Regions from separate parts of the Homo sapiens genome. Here region 2 is linked to region 1. The links come from fine-mapping of genetic effects on gene expression. A gene starts in region 1. The other region holds a variant in brackets. All regions are shown on one strand. Distances are between the middles of the regions.

Region 1 (10,499 bases):
AGCCAGGCGTGGTGGCGGATGCCTATATTCCGAGCTACTTAGGAGGCTGAGGCAGGAGAATTGCTTGAACCAGAGAGGTGGAACTTGCAGTGAACCAAGATTACACCACTGCACTCCAGCCTGGGCAAAAGAGCGAGACTCTGTCTCCAGAAAAAAAAATAAATAAATAAATATGACTTCAAACAACTCAGAGAGAAGGCTGACCAATAGAAGAATTAAAGAGCTTTTGAAATACAGTTTAAGAATGGTTTTGCTGCAGTTCTAAAAATGAAATTCTGACTTTATTCTCACAAATAATCCCAAAGGGAGAAAAGGGAAAAGGCATCTACAGGAAGCTTTGGCTAGCTAGGGAACTGTTTTTATATGATCAGACTTTAAAAGTTCATATCCAGAACAAAGAAGAACAAGGTGGTAGAAAATAGAATGCCTAAGGTGCAAAATAAACTGAGGCTGGCAAATATATATATATATATGTGTGTGTGTGTGTGTGTGTGTGTGTGTGTGTGTATTTGTTAGCTTACTTATTGTATAATTATAATGCTTAATGAACTAATACATTCTTATACAATTATATTTAATTTGTTCACATAATTTATGCGTATGTGTGTGTATATATATATTTTAGCCATGTTTGAATGAGATAGATTGAGAGTTCACTGTTTGAGACAGAAGTAAATTTTTTTTCATCTCAGATTTGAAAGGCTCTAATCTGAGGACACCAGTAATTCTTAAGAATTCTCTCCCTTATATTGGGCAAAATCAAAATTCATCATTCATCACCCCTCCCCGCCGCCTCCTGCTTCTAGCCCAGGAATTGATCAATTTAAATACCAGAAGAGATTTCATCTACATCAGAGGTCACGAAACCAATGGCTCCTGGCATCTGGCAGGTAATACGGAAGTACCCCATACATTTATAGAAATAAAATTCAGAAGAATATGGATGACCTGGTGTGGTGGCTCATGCCTGTAACCCTAGCATTGTAGAAGGCTGAGGCAGGAGGATCACTTGAGGCCAGGAATTTGAGACCACCCTGGGCAACATAGTGAGACCTCATCTGTAAAAAGTATATATATGTGTATATATATCTCCACATATGGGTGGAAAGGCCAGGCATAAAGCAGCAATGGATGTTGGCAGTGTAGTGACCTGGATAACGGATGCCCTGTTAAAAGAAATTTACCCACAAAAATTAAAATTTTGTTTAATTTGAAAAATTTAAAACTTAGAAAGATACTGTGTTGGCCAAGCTGAATATCCTCAGACTTCACCTGTGTGTCTCTGGTTTTCATTCCCTGGTTTAGAGGGCTTCTGAGGTTCAGAGAGGTTAGGTGACTTGCCCCCAAACCTAGAACCAATTGATAATACTATGTACAACGAAGATATCAAATCCTAGAAGCAAGTAACTGGCTTACCTGACAACATAACCTGATTCAAATGCTGAGGGCGCCAAACTTGTGTTCCATTCAAGTGGTTCCACAAAAACAAATTTTGCCTCTTGAGGATGTTTATAGATAAAACTCTCCACAAACACAATAATTTCTTTCAATATCGCTTCATTTAGAGGGGTGATTTCGAGGATTCCAGTTCCATGTCCGGCAGCAGTCCACTGCGTCAATTTCCTCAGAGCCACACCCATGGGATCCACCGTGCTCAGACCTGAGCTTAGCACACGCACTACATCAGAGCAGAAAGAGAAAGAGACAACAGCGTCCACCTTTTCCTTGGAACATTTTTCATTCTCAAGACTTTAAACTAGTACTCCCCATCCCACATTCTGCTTATTAATCTTGGAAGATTCTTTTAACATTATCTAATTGCTCTTCAGTTCAATGAAGTAGTAAACCAGCACTAGATAAAACTGACTAGTATTTAAGAAATTTCCGGTATTTGCCCTGAAATTAATAACTTCTTTCTAATTTCCCTAGGGCCTAAGAGAGAGGATTCAAACAGATAGGCATAAAACCCAAATAGAAAACTCCAAGAGTGGAAAAAAAAGGAAGTGGAAGAGGTTTATATTAAGGGCTTTTGTTCACAGCTCTGTTGGGAGCCAGCAGTTTCAGGGACAAACATTCCTTTCAGCCAGGACACACATTGTTTAGAATTACACTATTAAACTGAATACTGTTATCCCGACTTTCTTACAGTGACAATATCTGCATCATCACAATGATGACTGAAGAACATGATTCTGGTAGCTCTGGTTTCCCCAAGTGCATTCTGAGTTAAAAAAGAAATAGAATAAGAACAGTATTGTGAAATATAATTTTTTTTCTAAAAATTGATACAGGACACATTGATCCTATTACCAGAATATCTGGACAATCCAAATACTATTTTCCCTGCCTGTATATCCTGCCCAGATGACATTTTACTGTAATTCACAACCTTCTTAAGAGTTAATGTGAGAGATGTAGGAATAAGTGAGACTCTTTCAGCCTTTTTATCTAAATTAGTTATCAGAAGAGTCTAGCAGTAAAATTTAAAACCAATTCAAGTGAGACAAATTTCACATTGGCTAAATAGAAATTAGTCTGTAAAAGAAGATCTTTTAAAAAGTAACAAAATCTGTAACGTTAAATAAGAGCCAAGTTAGAAAGCACGTTCTGACTTCATAATGAACATTTAATGCTTTTTTGGCAGATAATCTATACTTGTTTCTTTTCTCTTTTGTATAGCACTTATTGATAAAATCTTTCTTCCAGAATATTAGAAGAATGGTTATACGGTTAAATATAGAATAAAATTGGCTTTTTACTCCCATCATTATTAAAAAGGCTTAAAGTACAAAGATTAGACTTGGAGATTTTACATTCTGTACTGTATTAAATCTTTGAACTATCTATTAAATTCAATCACAGGAGATCACTGGATGGCAACAGGGCAGTACTTCCTGCTGATAAAGAGTATAGAAATATTATAGAGATGTCTAGTTATCAACATGATAGGAAAGGGGGCATTATCGGCCTTTAGTGTTGAGGACCGACAATGTAAAATATCCTGTGCAGGATAGTACCTCAGAAGGAAGAATTCTGCTGTAACCTCCAGGCATCTAGTAAGTGAAAAACTTCAGATAAGCACTACCTGAGCCTAGAATTTTTCTGCACTTTGCAAAAATTGCAGAGTATTTTGTCACAGTTTTATTACACCCTGAATTTTCCAGAATTGTAGCTACCATAAACGAAAAGAAGGTTGTACATATTTTGTTTTACATGGAATTTTACCAAGAGCTCAGCATTTTGGAAAATGACACCATTGATGGCAATGTTATTTGAGAAATTTAAGTTGCAATGGCACATCTGTATCAGTCTGCATTTGGGGCTGCTGTGTTCACAGTCATTCTGTGTAAGGCTGGACATCTGACTACTTCCCTATATATTCTAGTGTAGTGGTACTTGAGCGTTTACATGCCAATCTTTTCTTACAATTATTTTCTTTCATTTTACAGTTAGCACACTATCAATATTTAAAACTATATTAAATATGTAAGATTATAATCTATGATATTGATTTCAGGATAGCAAAGCAGCCTTACAACATATATGCTATAAAAACCAAGTACTGGATCAGATAGGGTGGAGAACAACTGATCCAGACATATATACCAAAGTGGTCATGAAATAAAGTGCAGAAATTAGTGCACAAATTTGTTCTGGGTGTTTGTTTTAGTATTCTAGCATTTTGTTTCTATTGCTAACCGATGAGAAATGCTTTAGATTTAAACACATAAACATGTTCTGATGTGTATGTGTGAGACTCTTGAATTTCCCATTGTTGTGTAAAATAAGTGCAAATCAGTGTAAAATAGTGTGAAATAAGTGCAAATAGCTTTATCTTATACAGAAAGGCTTAGGTGAAAGTTCTGTCTGTCTTTAATCTTAAGTATAACATTTGTTTTGGTAATCTTATAAAGATTGCTTCTTGCACATTTTTAAAGAAAAAATGCGAAATTAAATAGATTATGTAACGCTATGGTAGTCAACATACCATATAGTAACTTCTTGAAGGACCCTTAACACAGAATTAAGAAATGCAAAATCGTTATTTTCGTCAAGATAAATTTTGACAGAAATGTAACATTTGAATCTATTCAAATTGTATTTCCAAGTCTAGTGAACCGTAGCAATGCACAAGTTTTATTCAAGAAGGTTGGTGAGTTTAAGAAAACCTCAGGGTGGCCTATGACAATCCAGAAGGCAAGATCAATGTTATTAGAAAATAAATAAATAAATAAATGGTGTTCAAAAATGGTCGGCATAACTCAAAACTAAGATTTTAAAATCAAGACCAGTTGCTCCCCGGTTTCTGCCCATTGCCAAGCTCTTTTGGCTTAAGAACCATAGTTAAAATGAATCCATGTAAATACACAGCACACACCTTTGAAGTAAAGAAAGTAAGTTTAAAGATTAAAAGGAAAAAAGTTTTGGTTACGTGTTTACATAAACTGGGATGTTTACATAAACTGGGAATCACTTAGCACTCATTTTTCTCTTTATCCAATAGATACCACAGATTGTTTTTCTTTCTAAAGGTCAATTTCAAGCTTCCAGCATCATTAGTGAAATGAAACCCATTCGGTAATCACATCGTTAACACTTAAACAGAAGCACAACCGAATTCTTTAGGGGGCTACGGAAAGGCAGCCATCAGCTCTGAGATCTATGAAATGTGGTTGGTAACATCCACGGGGAGTCCGCGCATACACTGCTTTCTGAGAATGCAGAAGTTACTCAGTAAGACCGACAGAAAATCGAACTTTTAGACATGACATGAACAGGGCCCTAAGTAAAACCAAAGCTAAGCCTAGTGTGGGATGACGGCCCCCACCAGACTCGTTACAAGAAGGGGGCGTCAGAGCTGAGACCCTAAGTTTCCAGGAATGGATTCGGTAAGGGGACGAGGAGGGAAGGGACGGCGAAAACCACGCTGGGAGCGGGAGGCAGAGCTGCAAAGGGCGGAGGAGAAAGACGGGCTGGGGGAAGGAGAGGCAGGGAAGCGGCGGGAGAAGTGGAGAGCGGATCCGGGAGGTGATGGGGCCGAGGTAGTGCAGAGAGGGGCGCAGGGACTGAGGAGCAGACGGTCCCCAACCTAGGGCCGAGGCAGGGTCTCGCGGGGAGGAAGGAGTGAGATGGGGCTGGGAGAGAGAAGGGAAGGGGGCGGGTCTTGGTCCCCGGGAGGGAAAGGGGAGCAGGCGAGAGCGGCAGCGGCGGGGCCAGAGAGCCGCCTCTGTTTCCCGATCCACGCGGGCGGCTGCAGAACCCCTGCGGGGGTGAGCGTGGAGACCCCCAGCCGCACTCACCTGCAGCACCCTGCCCCCCGCAGTCGGCGCCCGCCTGTTGCTAGGACGCGGGTCAACACTGCGCGCCCTGCGGCCGCGCACGCCGGCGCCCTTGTGGGAGGCCTACAGGGCCCGTGCCCTCCCCCGGGCGCCGCCGCCGCCGCCTTCCGCTCCCAGCCTCACCCGGCCGCGACCGCAGCCCAGTCCGTTACCCTGGTCTCGGGACCTCCGCGCATCCAAGATTCCCGCGGACCCGTTGCACCGTATGCCCGCGCCAGAGACGCTCTGCGCCCGCGCTGGGTTCCACCCGCCCCGGCCACCTGCTGCTTTCCGCTCGGCCCCTCCCGGGAAACACTTTTATTCAACTTTGCATCTCCCTTTCTCAAACACTTTTATGCAACTCCCGAGTGTGCACCCTAACTCACTCCACGCGGTGGGAAAGGTTGACTTTGACAGAGGTCGTGAGCAGTTGCGGGGTCGGCGGCAAGTTAGCAGAAAACTTAAAATGGAGCAGAAAGGAAGCAGAAAATATTCCTTAGAAACCCCTTTTTACATTTTTCCATAGGCTTCCAGACAAGTGCGTTGTATGTACCTGAAATCTTCACTGAGTACCCCCAAATAGCATAGGGCTTCTCCTAGGATATTTGAGGCTTACATGTTTCTCTCCAAAAAAACAAATATGGTAGAATACTCTGATACTCACCGGGAAAGCAGAAAGCGCTCTTCAATAGGGCAGAGGATCGGAGTGAAATGAAAACATGTCCCCCATCTCTTTTTTTAAATGGCCTTTACCTTTGTCCATTAAGATGGTTTTGACCCCACCTCTAGACACCCTACCAGCAAGAGCCCCAACTGGAACACCAGTGAGGGATAAAGGAGTGGGAATATTGAGGTGGGGGGGGATGGGGAAGAATGCACTATCTTGGGGTGGGGGGACACGGTGTTTAAGGACCAATGCCGGAGCACTTAGGATGATGGGGTGTTTAGGAATTAAAACTGGATTCTTTTCCGGATGCCAAAGAGGCAAATGTGGAATGATGTTAGGATATCACCTGTCATAATATTATACGGATTCAGCTCAAAGCAGAACCTTTCTGCAAACACGTAGGGATATGAGGTATAGATATTTGTCCTTTGTTTTGGGTTTTTTGGAGGGTGGGGGACGAAGTCTGGCTCTATCACCCAGGCTGGAGTGCAGTGGCACGATCTCGGCTCACCGCAACCTCTGCCTCCCATCTCGGCTCACCGCAACCTCTGCCTCCCGGGTTCAAGAGATCCTCCCCCCTCAGCTTCCTGAGTAGCTGGGATTACAAGAATGCGCCGCCATGCCCGGCTAATTTTTGTACTTTTAGTAGAGACGAAGTTTCACCATGTTGGCCAGGTGGGTCTTGAACTCCTGACCTCAAGTGATCCACCCACCTCGGCCTCCCAAAGTGCTAGGATTACAGGCATGAGCCACCATGCCTGGCCTGTTTTGGGTTCTTTTCTTCTCTTTTTGAAAGTGCGAAAGTTGTTAGGAATGGAATAGTTTCACCTAAAGGAGATACTACCTGCAGAGAAGCTTAGACTTGCAACCAGTGAGAAAGGGGCTTATGCTAATAGGTATACAGAGAAGCCCTTTTAAAAATGGGTGGATTACAGTCTGAGACAACAGCATCACACCTGTGGCGGTAATGCAGGTCACAACCTGGTGAGGAGCAGAGGGCATCCTTCGGAAGGATCCTGGAGTAGTCCCAGTCCTGGAAGCAAGGAAGCTTCTGTGGGTACTTTAGTTCCTCTGCACATTTTAATCAGCTGTATGACATAAGGGAGCATTACTGGGTCCAATGTGGATGCCAGCCAGAGATCTTCCAAGTTCAGGACATTTCACCTTGGTTTGCAAAGCTGGAAAAAGCCAGAACCCACCAAGATCTGAGCAACTATGTCGTTGTTTGCCAAATTCATGCCAAGTTGCTTAATCTGATGCCAAAATGTGAATTTATTTTACCGGATATTTTCCAAGCAAAAATAACTTAATAATATTTAAATCTGAAGAAGTCCCAGTCGCCTCTTTCCAATTTTTCCTTGTCGTGATGAAACACTACCTGGGCCCAGTCACTCCCTGAAGGATTTATCATGACTTGTTTTTTTTTTTTCTTTTTTTTTTTTTTGAGACGAGGTCTCATTCTGTCACCCAGGCTGGAGTGCAGAGTGCAGTGACATAATCATAAGCATAGCTCACTGCAGCCTCTGATTCCTGGGCTCAAGTGATCCTCCAGCCATGGCCTCCGAAAGCACTGGGATTACAGCCATGAACCACTGTGCCTGGCCATAACTTGTCTTTGCCTTGTTGCCCATCTGCTACCCCTACAAGGTAAGCTTTATGAAAATAGGGAGCTTTTCTGCCTCCTTCAAGTCTGTACTCCTAAGATCTAGAAGGATGACTGGCACGTAGAAGGAGCTAAATTCATGAATCGCCTAGTCAAAGATGCCTTGCTTCCTGACACTCTTCACCAAGCACCAGAAAGGCAAGGCCCACATTTTCTTAGGGTTAATAGAACCAGCCTGAGGATTCTAAGTAGCCGTGATCTTGGAAAGAGCCTTCATCACTGAGGGCACACCCGGGGTTTGCTGTACCAGAGGCCTTTACCAGCCCTGCCCATGGCTAGAGTGCAAGCACATGGTGCAGCGCTGTCCACTGAAACTTTAGAGAAAATCTGCCACAGGCTCCTGGGAAAAACTTGATAGTTTTTGGTCCACCTCCGCAACATTACGTCATCTACAGCAGGGACCCCACCCACACGCCACACCTTCTGTCAGATCAGCAGTGGCATTAGGTTCTCATAGAAGCATGAACCCTATTGTGAACTGTGCATTCGAAGGATCTAGGTTACAAGCTCCTAATGGGAATCTAATGCCTGATGATCTGTCCCTGTCACTCATCCCCCCCAGATGAGACCGTCTAGTTGCAGGAAAACAAGCTCAGGGCTCCCACGGATTCCACGTTATGGTGAGCTGTATAACTATTTCATTATATATTACAATGTAATAATAGTAGAGATACAGTGCACGAGAAATGTAATGAGCTTGAATCATCCTGAAACCATCCCCTCCCCCACACCCTATCCATGGAAAAATTGTTGGCCATGACACTGGTCCCTGGTGCCAAAAATGTTGGGGACTGCCGATCTACAGGGATTCTTATGAAACCATCCACCCTGGCTTGGGCAAATCTGTTCCTCTCATGTATCAGAGAGTTCAGACACAGATTGCACACATTAATTTGCTAGGGCTTTTGTAACAAGGTATCACAGACTGGGGCGGCTTAAATACCAGAAATGTCTTATCTCACAGTGCTGGAGGCTAGAAGTCCAAGATCAAGGTGTTGGCAGGATTGATCCCTTCTGAGAGCTATGGGGAATGAATCGATTCCAGGCTTTTCTCCTCAGCTTGTAGATGGTTGTTTTCACATTCATATGATGTTATCCCTGTGTGCTTGTCTCTGTACACAAATTTCTGAATTTGAGACAGGACCTAGGCTAGAGTGCAATAGTGCAATCACGGCTCACTGTAGCCTCGACCTCCCAGACTCAAGTGATCCTCCTGCCTCATCCTCCCAAGTAGTTGAGACTACAGGCATGCACCACCATACTCAGCTAATTTTTGTGGGCTTTTTTTTTTTTTTTTTGTAGAGATGGGGTCTCGCCATGTTCCCCAGGCTGGTCTTGAACTCCTGGGTTCAAGTGATCTGCCTGCCTCAGCCTCCCAGAGTGCTGGGATTATAGGTGTGAGACACTCCTCTTGGCTTATTTCCTCTTTTTTTTATGAACACCAGTCATATTGGATCAGGACTCACCCTCATGAACTCATTTTAACTTGATTACTTCTATAGAAACCCTATGTTCAGTACGGTTGCACTCTGAGACACTAGAGGTTAGGACTTCAGCATACGATTTTAGGGGGACACAATGTCACACATAGCATTATGTAAAGATGTGATCAGCAGGCTTCCAGCGCCCATTCATCTGTGTCAGAGTGAAGCCGACTAAGAATTTATAGGCCATAACCAGGGAGAAAGTAAGAGGCAAGGTTGGTTTAAGCATCCAGTACCTCAATCAGGAAAGGACTAAGACAGATGAAATAAACCTCCTGAGGTTTGCAGGGAATTACAGTCATTTATATTTTGTCGTAATGGGGGTAAGTCTCATTATAGGGCGGAATTGCCTCTCTGTGGAATTTTTTAGGAGTTTTCAACAGAAATTCCCATGAGAGAAAATTGCATGAAGTCTTACGAAGTCCTAAAAACCAAATTCACCAGATTCTACCCTCTCTCATAGATAAAGACAAAAAGTCAGAGAAGTGCAGCCTCAGCTGCCTCCCTTTGCCCTCTGATATTTCTCAGTGATGCATTGTGGACCAAGGCCCACGGCCTGGAAATGAAATGGCTCCTTCTCCTTAGATTCTAATCTCCTAGACATTCATTTACTCAATAAATGCTTTTTGGATGCCATTTTGTGCCAGGCACTCCATTGGCAGAACTCGATTATCCAATTCAAGTCCTAGCCAAAAAAGGAGCCTACTAAACTCAACTCAGAATTCCTGGACTAGAAGGAGAGCCACTGGCATGAAGCACAGTAGCAAAGGAGAGAAAGGAGAAGAGACTGAATCGGTGGGAAGGACTGCATGAGGTGGAACATTTAAGCCATGATAACAATTGAAATATTCTTCCAAGAATAAATGAAAGTTACTGGAAGATTTTTAGCAGGGAGTGACATGCTCCGATTTCTCTTGTTAAGAAGCTGTTCTGATTACACAGTGGAAGTAAACTAGAGAAATGCATGAGTAGAAAGAAAGAGACTATTAATAAGACACCTGGCCTCAGGTTCCCCTGAGAAATAGACTCTGAGATAGAGAAGGGCATGTAAGAAATGTATTGAGAAGTGCCCTCAGGAGAGTGAAGGCAAGGAGATTAGACCGAGAGAGAAGCTGAACTGCCATGCAGCCACAACCATCCCACAGAGAGCCCTGAAGCTGGGATGGCCCAGCAGTTTTCCCATATTGAGGCAAAGGGGCTGGACCTTTAGATCTTCTCATCAACTGATCATTATCAGCCAGTCCCTGGGTGCAGGCTGTCCCCAGGAATAGGGCATAACCTTACTCTTTCATTTGAGGGCTATCATCTGCCCATAATCCCCAGCAGCTGAGGGCAGGAGTGCTTTGGTCTTGGAGAGGTGGGATGGG
Region 2 (10,499 bases), 180 kb before region 1:
CTGCCATTGTCACTGATCTTCACACTTCAGCCTTCCACCTTCAGAGTTACATCTGGGCCCTGATTTTTCATCACTTTCAACAGTCTGACCTCCAAACTCTCTGACCACAATGTCTCCTCCCACGATTTGGCTATGCAACCATCTTACTTGTTTGTTCTCATCATGATCTCTTGTCCATGGGCTCACATACTTTTCCTTTAACCATCTTCCGTCTTTGCTTCCTCCATAACCAGCTTAGATTGCATAGTCCGTCTTTTGAATCATTCTCTTATCAGTTTCTTAAACCTCCTTACAACATCCCTCCAGGAAAACCATAACTGTCCATAAATCCAACTCTGTTCTTCCCTGTGCCTTCACCAATAACTGAGTCCTGCGGGAGGCATATGTCAACAACAAGGCAAATCCATCCTCTATCAGTTCAACCTCAACTGGATTCTCATTCACTGCCCAGCAATCAAAATTTGTGTCCCTCTCATTAGGTTACTTTCCCTTTCCAATGCCTATTTTAAATCTTCCTTCTTCTTCAATCTTCAGTTCTTCTTTTTAGCCCCCATTTCCAGAAGATGACCAATAAGGTCTCCTTCATAAACTCGATCGAAGCCATTAGACAGCAACAACTCTACCTAAAACGGCAACCATGCCAGCGTCTTAGCAGATCTTTTTATCCTACCTTCCAGTTACAATGGCTCTCTCCTATCCAAGGCCCACCATCCACTTGTATTCTTCATTCATTCTTCTTCTTAGGACATTTTACTACCAAATACTCCCTGTTTCTCTTCTACTTTAGCTTTCACCTCTTCCTTTCTAATGATTCCATTATCATTTAAACACGTCTTACACATTAAAAATAAAACAAAACAAAAAGACACCACTTTGACCCCATTTTCTTCCCTTCATAGCCAAATTTCTTTAAAGAGTTGTCTGGAATTCCTATCTCCAGTCTTAAATTCCATCCCACTGACTCCAGGCTGCTGTCTGCCTTCAGCTCTCCTCTGAAATAACCCTCTCAGAGGATGTCAGTAACTTCCTTCCATGTGGCTAAGAGTAGTGGACACTTAGGAGTTTTCATCTTATTTGACCCCTTAACAGCATTTGATATAATTGGCCACTTCCTCCTTCTCTGCCACTGGCTTCTTCTACCGTACTCCCCTGCTTTTCCTCGTATCCATTCATTCTCATCTTCTCAATCTTCATCCATGGCTCTGTCTGCTTCCCCCAAACAAAAATTGTTAGAGTTCATCAGAACAAATTCCCCTTCTGTTTTCATTCTGTTCCCCCTCCCTAGATGACATCTTTCACTACCTGAATTCAAATGGCATTCATATGGAACCATCTTCTAAATTTCTATCTCCACCCCAGAAACCTCTTTGGAATGGAACACTTCATATCCAACACTTCTTAGCCATCTCCACTTGGAAGTCTCACAGCCACCTCAAGCTTAATAGATTCCAAATGAAATTTTTTATTTTTTCTATATAAACATGAATCTCTTTCCAAGTATTTTCCTGTATCCATAATAGATGTTATCACTTAGTTGTTCAAGACGGAAATCTGCGTGCCTCACACTCACTCCCACCCTCATCTCCCCTATGCTGCATCCAACTGATTATCATATTCTTGTGATTCAGCTGCCTACACATATTTCAAAGTCATTCACTTCTCTTTATTGCTATTGTCATTCACCCCAGTAAAGCCTACTTCCCACTGTCCCTGCACCCTGTCTTGTCCCTGTCTGATGAACTATTCATACTGTATCTAGAGTAATTGCCTAAATTGTGAAATTCACTAATAAGATACAATGTTTTTGAGAAACAGGAAGAAATAAGACAGGATCAATCTTCTGAGATTCAAGAGAAAGGAAGATTCTGTTCTGTATGAGGGAAACAGGGAAGTTTGGAGGGGCTCATGCCTTGGGAGTTTTGTATCATTCCTTTTCTCCAGCATCGTTCAATATCCTAGGCATAACACAGAGGAAATAGATTATAGGACTGTGATTCATTTGAACAGCCATATGGTCTGTGCTGGGCTGGAAGGGAAGTGAAAACAGGAGGCTACTGATCACTGGGAGAATTAGGAAGTGAGGCCTCAACAATGCAGGAAAACAGTTTAGGTGGGACCAAAGCATAGGAAAAGGGTGAAAATAAGACATTCTCATCTGAGAATGAGATATTTGGAGTTTAAGATTTTACAGATGAAGTTCCTTTGAGTATTGACAAGATCCATGGTATGACCATGGGAATGTAGGTCAGTATAAGATTGTTATGCAGTTTTTTGTTTGTTTGTTTGTTTAGACAAGTCTCGCTCTTTTGCCCAGGCTGGAGTGAAGTGGTGTCATCTTGGCTCACTGCAACCTCCGTCCCCTGGGGTTCAAGTGATTCTCCTGCCTCAGCCTCCTGAGTAGCTGGGATTACAGGCGTGTGGCACCACACCCAGCTAATTTTTGTATTTTTAGTAGAGACGGGGTTTTGCCATGTTGGCCAGGCTGATCTCTAATTCCTGACCTCAGGTGATCCACCCGTCTCGGCCTCCAAAAGTGCTTGGATTACAGGCATGAGCCACCGTGCCCGGCCTGTTATGCAGTTTTATACATACACACAGATGTATGCATGCATGCATACACACTTTTATATTCTCATTCTCCCTCTCTCACTGTAGGAAGAGGAAATAATGTAAAAAATAACGAGCAGGAAGAACAGAGTAGCCACTCTCTTTGGTTATCCTAACACATGGCTTACATGTCTTTGTATAGCTATTCACACTTAAATCCCTTTCCTAGCTCACAACTTTTAACTCATGATCTATGGTTCAGAATTTTTATTGATCTCTTTGTTTATACCTCACTTTACTGTATAGACAGTTAAAATTCTTTTCAAAAATTTTGGATATATTTCGAGGGTACAAGTGCAAATTTCTTACATGCATATATTGCACAGTGGTGAAGTCTGGGCTTTTAATGCACCCACCACCCATATAGTGAACACTGCACCCAATAGGTAATTTTTTAACCCTCATTCCCCCTCCCCATTTCCCATCTTTTGGGGTCTCCAATGTCTATTATTCCATGTGTACCCCTTGTTTAGCTCTCACTAATAAGTGAGAACATGCAGTTTTGACTTTCTGTTTCTGAGTGATTTCACTTAGGATAAGGGCCTCCAGTTCCATTTATGTTGCTGCAAAAGACATGATTCATTCTTTTTTATGACTGAGTAGGCATTCTATGGCATATATGTACCACATTTTAAAAATCCAATACTCTATGAATGGGCACTTAGGTTGATTCCATATCTTTGCTATTGTGAATAGTGCCGCAATACACATACAAGTGCAGGTATGTTTTTGACACCGTGATTTCTTTCCCTTTAGGTATATATCCAGTAGGGGGATTGCTGGATCAAATGGCTGTTTACAGACAGTCTTTAAAGCAGATACAACTTTATGAAATTTAGACGATTTCTTCTAGATACATACTTCGCACCATTCACCATTTTTCATACTCACATGGCTTTTACTGACCTCCTCGTAGCCCACATCCACCATGGTAACCTTTGTTATCCTGGAGTATGGAGTGCCAACTGTAAGCCTGGAGATTTCACTCTTCCACATCACTACCAAATAATTGAATGTGAGCGCTGCCAGCCTGGATGCCAATGGATCCTGATATTCATATGTCTCTATGCCCAATGGGCCTGTTTTTTCCTCACTTCTGCTTTCTGATCTTTAAATTATTTCTTATATCAAAACAAAACGTTCCAACTAATTTCTTGGTAAATTATATAATCAAGGGATTGACTTGATCCTTTGATTACATAATTGTATAACCCCTCGATTATAGGATTTTAAAGTTATTAATTTCCCTTTTACCTGAGTTATTTTCTCACTCCTTCTCCCAAGTAGATGATTCATAAGGGTTCATGAGTCCCTGTCTTGACTCCATTGTTATACAAAATATAGCAGAAAAACTCTCCCAACAGTCAATCACTTTAATAGACAATAATTATTACTTTATGAATTTTGTTATTACAGCCAGGTCATCACAATGAATAATGCCAGTTACCTGTAGGTGTTTCTGGGCCCTGGATTAGAGGACCTAATCCTATACTAAGAGCTTGATTTCCATACGCAAATGAGATTTAGAAAAAAATCTAGTCTCCAATTGCCCTATATTTGTTGTTTAGGTAATAGGAGGAGAATAGATTGCTAGCTACAGCAACTCCACCTAATATCTACCTCTCATGGCCACCCGCCTCGCTTCTGCTCCAGTCCTTGGCCTCCCCGCTCATAGTTCTGGTCATTGTTGCTTTTTAAATCTGGAAAGAAGTGAAATAAAGTCCTAGTCCATAGCTCAACTACCTGAGAAGGAATCTAGATGCCTTATACTGTTCACTCCTTCCTAGAAAAATCACTATCAAACCATAGTCAAGGGTATGGGTTTTGAGGTCACAGCATCTTGGATCTGTACTCTGACTCTCCCAGTCACTGGGCACATCACTGAACCTCTTAACCCAACCTTCTCATATGTGTAAAGGGATCACATACCTCTGGGGGTCACTGCAAAGATGAATTAAACATACATCTTTAATAGATGTTTGAACACCTGTATTCACAGTCTCTTCCTTTCTTTACGTCCTTTGATCTTTCCCCTTCCTATTTTGTCTGATGATTCCCCCAGCCTTCTGCAAACCCAAGTCTGCAGTGTGTGGGAGGGAAGAGTGGAGGAGCACAGGTCGGGGGAATTTACACTGGCAAGGGCAGAGGACTCCTTATGGGACAGAAAAGAGCAACAGAAATAGAAGGAATGAAAAAGGGGGAAAGAGAACTTCACCCTGTTTTGAAGAGTTTGAGGGGTTTGGAGTAGAAAGATTATTTTAAAGGCAACTCTGGGGTGAGAGAGATATACTATGAAAGATTAAGGACTTAAAGCTTAATAGTGCATGATTGTACTCTCTATCTTCGAGAGAGTAAAACTAGGATTCAAATTACTTTCAGGCCGGGTGGATGCCTGTAATCCCAGTGCATTGGGAGGCCAAGGCAGGAGGATGGCTTGAAGCCAGAAGTTCAAGACCATCTTGGGCAACATAGTGAGACCCTGTCTCTTAAAAAAAAAAAAAAAAAAAAAAAAAAAGTTAACCAGACATAGGTGTGGTCACGTGCGCCTGTAGTCTAGGTAGCTGGGTGGGTCTGAGAGGCTGAGACGGGAGGATGGCTTGAGCCCAGCTCTTCAAGGCTGCAGTGAGCTATGATTGCGCCATTGCTGTGACCTCAAAACCCATACCCTTGACTATGGTTTGATAGTGATTTTTCTAGGAAGGAGTGATCAGCACAATGCATCTAGATTTAAGAGACCTTATCTCTTTAAAAAAAAAAAAAAGGAAAGAAAAAAATACTTTCAAGTGCTATTGGGTTGCTAGGCTTTTGTTTCTCTGACTGCATTTTTAGATCAGGACTGGACCAAGAGGCAGCCTGGCTTCATATGGGTTATGCATTTGAATCGCATAGTCCAGTGCCCAATACAAAGCAAGCGTTCCATGAATGCTACTCACGCTCATGGTGATTCTTTTGCCAGTTCAGAAGTCTGGTTCTGGTGTTATTTCCTGGAGGCCTGGCCTGGTTAGTTTGGAAGGAAGAGGGAATTTTGGCCCAGAGGTCAGTCTAGCTTCTGTCAGCACCTGCTCCAGGCCCTGCCTTGTCGCTGGCTGACCTCCATGGACACCAATGGCCCAGGCTCCACATGCCACTGGCTGCTGCCACCCTGTACGGCTCTCTTGGAAAGGAAACCCTTGACCTGATGCCTGTCAAAATCTAGCCTGCGTTTCGCCCATCCTCCCTCAGACCTGGTCATTGTTCTGCAGTCTCTGCTTGGGCTTTCTAAGAGTCGGTTGTATTTATTCCCAAACTCTTGATCCAGTTACATAATTTCCCACTGCATAAACCAATGGACTGT[G/C]AGTGTCAAGCATATGAGTCATAATGTTTGGCATACAGAAAGCTGCTGTGTGTTGGCTATTCCCGGAGTCAACCAGATAAGGGTTGCTGGAAACAGCATCTCCTGTGTGTTCACAAGACTTACGTTAGAAGAAAACTTTTAATCTAAGCAGGTACCCTTTTTATGACTCTATTCTATAAATTAAATTTTTCTTTACCTGAGTAACTTCTAGTCCTGAGTGTACCAAGAGGATTACTCTTTGTTGGGGAATTTATTTTGCCTTAAGTTTCTCACATTAACCACAAGGCTTCATTCTATATCCCATATGCTGGTTGGTTAAATTTTAGCTTAACAATTAAACCAATGAAGCCCAGCAACTTTTTTTTTTTTTTTTTTTTTTTTGATGGAGTTTTCCTCCTGTTGCCCAGGCTAGAGTGTAATGGTGTGATCTCAGCTCACTGCAACCTCTGACTCCCGGATTCAAGCCATTCTCCTGCCTCAGCCTCTGAGTAGCTAAGATTACAGGCATGCGCCACCACACCGGCTAATTTTGCATTTTTAGTAGAGACAGGGTTTTACCATGTTGGTCAGGCTGGTTTCAAATTCCTGATCTTAAGTGATCTGCCCACCTCAGCCTCCCAAATTGCTGGGATTATAGGCGTGAGCCACCGTGCCCAGCCAGCATTCCACTATTTTGAAGAACTATGATTTATTCTTTACTGCTGAATTTAGCCTGCTCTGTCCATTTTACTTAGCTAAGTACAGTCTCAATCAAGGGTGTAGAATTGGAAGTCTAGAATTTTCTGTGTGCTCCGGGTATGAATATTTGAGAAGTACCCCCAAGACCCTCTTTGAGTTTTGCCGCTAACTAACTGTATTGTTTTTCCCGAGTTTTACTTTATTTTCAATAACTGTTACTCATTGCTTTGTTATACACCCAGAGGGGCTAGGCATCTAAAGGTGTTTTACAAATTGAATAAGGTTATGTTACTGTCCCAAACCACCATCTGAAAAATATGTAGCATATATGTGTCTTGGTTTTGAATTGGGCTCAGGAATATGTTTTCATTTTCCTACGAGCCTCACAAGCAAACTAAGGCACTAATTTCTTTAAACTAAGGCACTAGTTTCTTTAAAACTAGCAAATACTCGCACAACAGAAAGTTGGTACAAAATCCTGAATTTGATGTGGAGCTAATATAAATGAAAGTGCAGTTCGTGTTTTCAAATCACTAACACACGGAGCAAGGTGAGGGCAGTTTCTAATCTCTTTGTCATAATTACATAAAAGGAATAGTTTTCTCAGGAAAGTGAACTACAAATTTGGTACAAGTGATTATGAAATTGGTATACACTTTTTTGGTATCTATTTTTTTATCTATAGACTTTCTTTCCAACTATAAAGACATGTTTTAATATTCTAAGGGGCTTACCTTTTTGAAGTCCTTGTTCCTTTCAAACTTTTCTCTTTTTAATCCTCCGCCTCCCCTAAAACACACCTAAAGACTTTAAATTTATTGGGAGTTTCATATATACACTGAAGGAAAACTAGCCCCCACGCTTTTGAAAACTTAACTGCACAGAGCACTTTAAAACATCATTCAAACAAATAACTTTTTACAACACTGGAGTGAACAAGAACGTGGGGACAGGCACAAGGACTGGTTTGTAGATTGGGTTAACACCAATGCTTCCTCTGGTGTAAAAGGCTTTGATCTTAAGGTTCATGCCCTCGGCATGCAGCTGTGACCCACAGTTCACATCTCCTGGAAGGTGTGACAAAGGTAGCATGGGAATTGGGTCTGCATTCAATTTTTACATTTCCATTTAACAGTTTATGATTTTATATAATATTTCAGTTGTATGAAAAGTATGTACCAATTTGAGTGATAACAGATTTTCTTGTGGTTTGACTTGACATTGTTTGGGTGAACACAGCCTAGAATCAGGAGTTTTAATTAGAGCTGGATGAGCTCTGGAATGCCTACCAGGCTTAGGGGTTTTCCCAAAAGATCTTAAGTGCCCAGAGCTGATTTGAACTGGGAACCCTTCTGACATTCTCCTGTTTACAAGGCATTGCAGTGACGTTGTAGCACTCATGCACAACCCAGTAACAAGAAATGCCTTTGGACTGTGTCCGCCTATGGAATGGCTTCCCAACTATTTGAGTTGGCTGGGGTTCTGCTGCTCTTCCAACAGAGGCTCCACTGCAGTTTCTTGCACATCCAGACTCTGAGCCTCGGTAATTCATTTCACATGACAGCTCACCAAAGCCGGGGGCCTCAAAACATATTTAACATTTGCTGGCTGGAGCAAAACCTTTGGTTCTATTTGGTCAGTGAAGGGAGTCAAGGGGCTTGCCTTTATTGGTGTCTGTCCTCCTCAAGGTGATAGGTGTGTGTGTGATCTGAGGTCCATGTCTGCAAAACTTGGATCTGCTTATTGGATCCAGTGCTCTTTCTGTGTGGACATTCCTAAGTTTATCCTCTGGGTTTTCTTCCATGTTTCTTCACGAACTTTCCACTAGAGAGCTTTAATGCCCAAACAGACAGACAGGAGACTCGCACATTGGGTCTATAGTATTGGGAGTAGAAATGGGATATATAATAGAGAGAGCCCTATTGACTTTCTTCTAAAAATGCTAGAAATGGAGAATGACTTGATGACTGGCTGGGTCAGGGAATTGTGGGACATTGCTCAGCACCCTATATCAGAGGAAAAGGAAGTGATAAGTTTCTGCCTGCCCAGGGCAGAAGCTCATGGTGTCATTTGGAATGGCCTCAAGTTGCTCTTGGATTTTTATTCCTATTAAATATAAAGAATATTGGCACACATAGGGGCTTCCTACATAAGAATGCTAAAGAAATAATAGGATAAGGATGGATTAAAAAAATCTATGTGGATAAGATTGTTTAGAATTGCATTTTGCTATTGGTTAGATCAAAGTGTAGATGGCAATTCTCTGGAAAAAAATATTCCCATAGATTATGCAGTAAAGTGGCTATGAGTTTATGCTTTGAGTTCAGACAGTCTGAATTTGAATCCTGACTTCACATCTTCCTAACTGTATGTGACCTGAGGTAACTCTCTCTAAACCTTAGTTTTCTTATCAGTAAAATTAGGATTTTTAATAGTACTTTCCTAATAAGATAGATATGGGATTAAATGGGAAACGTAATGTAAAGTGCTCATGCTATGTGCCCCTAAATTATAGTTGTTATTATTATTACTCTTGTTATATTGACTTGGAGACTGTTGTTGACCAGAGGCATTAATATTTGCTGTTAGCTCATTTTCTCTGCTACAGTTCCTGTTGGACTGATCCAAATAAGCAATTTTAATCTAGTTACATTGAAAATTAATACATTAACATAAGGTTCATGGTGTCCCGTTAGATAGTCAAAAACAAAAGTCAAGGCATTAGAACTAACACATCTCTATGTTCATAAAAATAGTTCAGGCCGGGCGCGGTGGCTCACGCCTGTAATCCCAGCACTTTGGGAGGCCGAGGCGGGCGGATCACGAGGTCAGGAGATCGAGACCATCCTGGCTAACACGGTGAAACCCCGTCTCTACTAAAAATACAAAAAATTAGCCGGGCGAGGTGGCGGGCGCCTGTAGTCCCAGCTACTCGGGAGGCTGAGGCAGGAGAATGGCGTGAACCCCAGGGGGCGGAGCCTGCAGTGAGCCGAGATTGCGCCACTGCACTCCAGCCTGGGCGACAGCGAGACTCCGTCTCAAAAAAAAAAAAAAAAAAAAAAAAAAAAATAGTTCAATAAGTTCTTATTCAAATTACTGTTTTCTCTTGTATCAGTCTCTAGTCTAGGAGAACATCAAATCCTGCTATGGATTGAATTTTGTCCCCTTCTAAACTCATGCTGAAACTTAATTGACATTGTAACAGTATTAAGAAGTGGGGCCTTTAAGAAGTGAATAAGACCTGAGGGCTCTGCCCTTATGAACGGATTAATGCTGTTACAGGGGGGTTGGGCTCCTAATAAATGGGTAAGTTTGGCCCCCATCTGCTCTCTGTCTCATGTACTTGCTTCCACCTACTGCCCTTCTGCCATGGAATGACCCTTGACAGATGCTGGTGCCATGCTCTTGAACTTCCCAGCCTCTAGAACTGTGAGAAATAATTTTTTTTCCTCATAAATTACCCAGTCTATATTCTGTTATAGCAGCAGAAAATGGACTAAAACCCCACAGGTAAGCAAAGACATGAATTAAATTATCTAGAACGATCCATAGATCTCTTTATTTGAAACAATCCATAGGTTTCCTCCAGACTGTAAGAAAATTGCCCTCTTGATATAAACTCTGAATATAGTGCCTGCATTTAACTTGGGTTCTCTCCCATTGGCATGAGATTGAAAATCTGTTGGCTGTCTGTATTCTGTTGTTAGATCCATTTTCTGAGAGACTATTTGGAAATAGATTTCTTGGGGAAAGGTTGTATGTATAAAATAGTCAAACAGTGGAACAAGCTGGATTTTACTGAGATTTCCCCAGAATTTTAAGTCTCCAGCCCTGACCTGAACTCTAGACTATTCAGCTTCCTACTTGACATCTCCACTTG

Which allele goes with the higher level. Positions count from the first base shown, and alleles are read on the strand shown. Sizes are in standard deviations (SD) of each study's normalised expression.
With allele C in place of G in region 2, the expression in thyroid of the gene that starts at base 5,577 in region 1 is lower (moderate effect, 0.46 SD a copy in GTEx).

Evidence for each region.
Region 2: its variant is fine-mapped to the expression of ODAD2 in thyroid (GTEx, PIP above 0.99).

The regions. Positions count from the first base shown.
Region 1 is chr10:27,993,503-28,004,001 of GRCh38, forward strand. ODAD2 (outer dynein arm docking complex subunit 2) reads right to left here and starts at 5,577. Exons shown (of 20, transcript NM_018076.5): 1 at 5,492-5,577; 2 at 1,417-1,678. The coding sequence starts at 1,640. LOC112268060 (a long non-coding RNA gene) reads left to right here. Exons shown (of 3, transcript XR_002957065.1): 2 at 807-890; 3 at 1,566-1,649. RefSeq lists an enhancer at 982-2,181.
Region 2 is chr10:27,814,480-27,824,978 of GRCh38, forward strand. The region is part of intron 19 of ODAD2 (outer dynein arm docking complex subunit 2); the gene reads right to left. Among named protein-coding and RNA genes, the nearest start is that of MKX, 74 kb to the left of the region's middle. The variant G/C (reference allele first, on the strand shown) is at 5,942.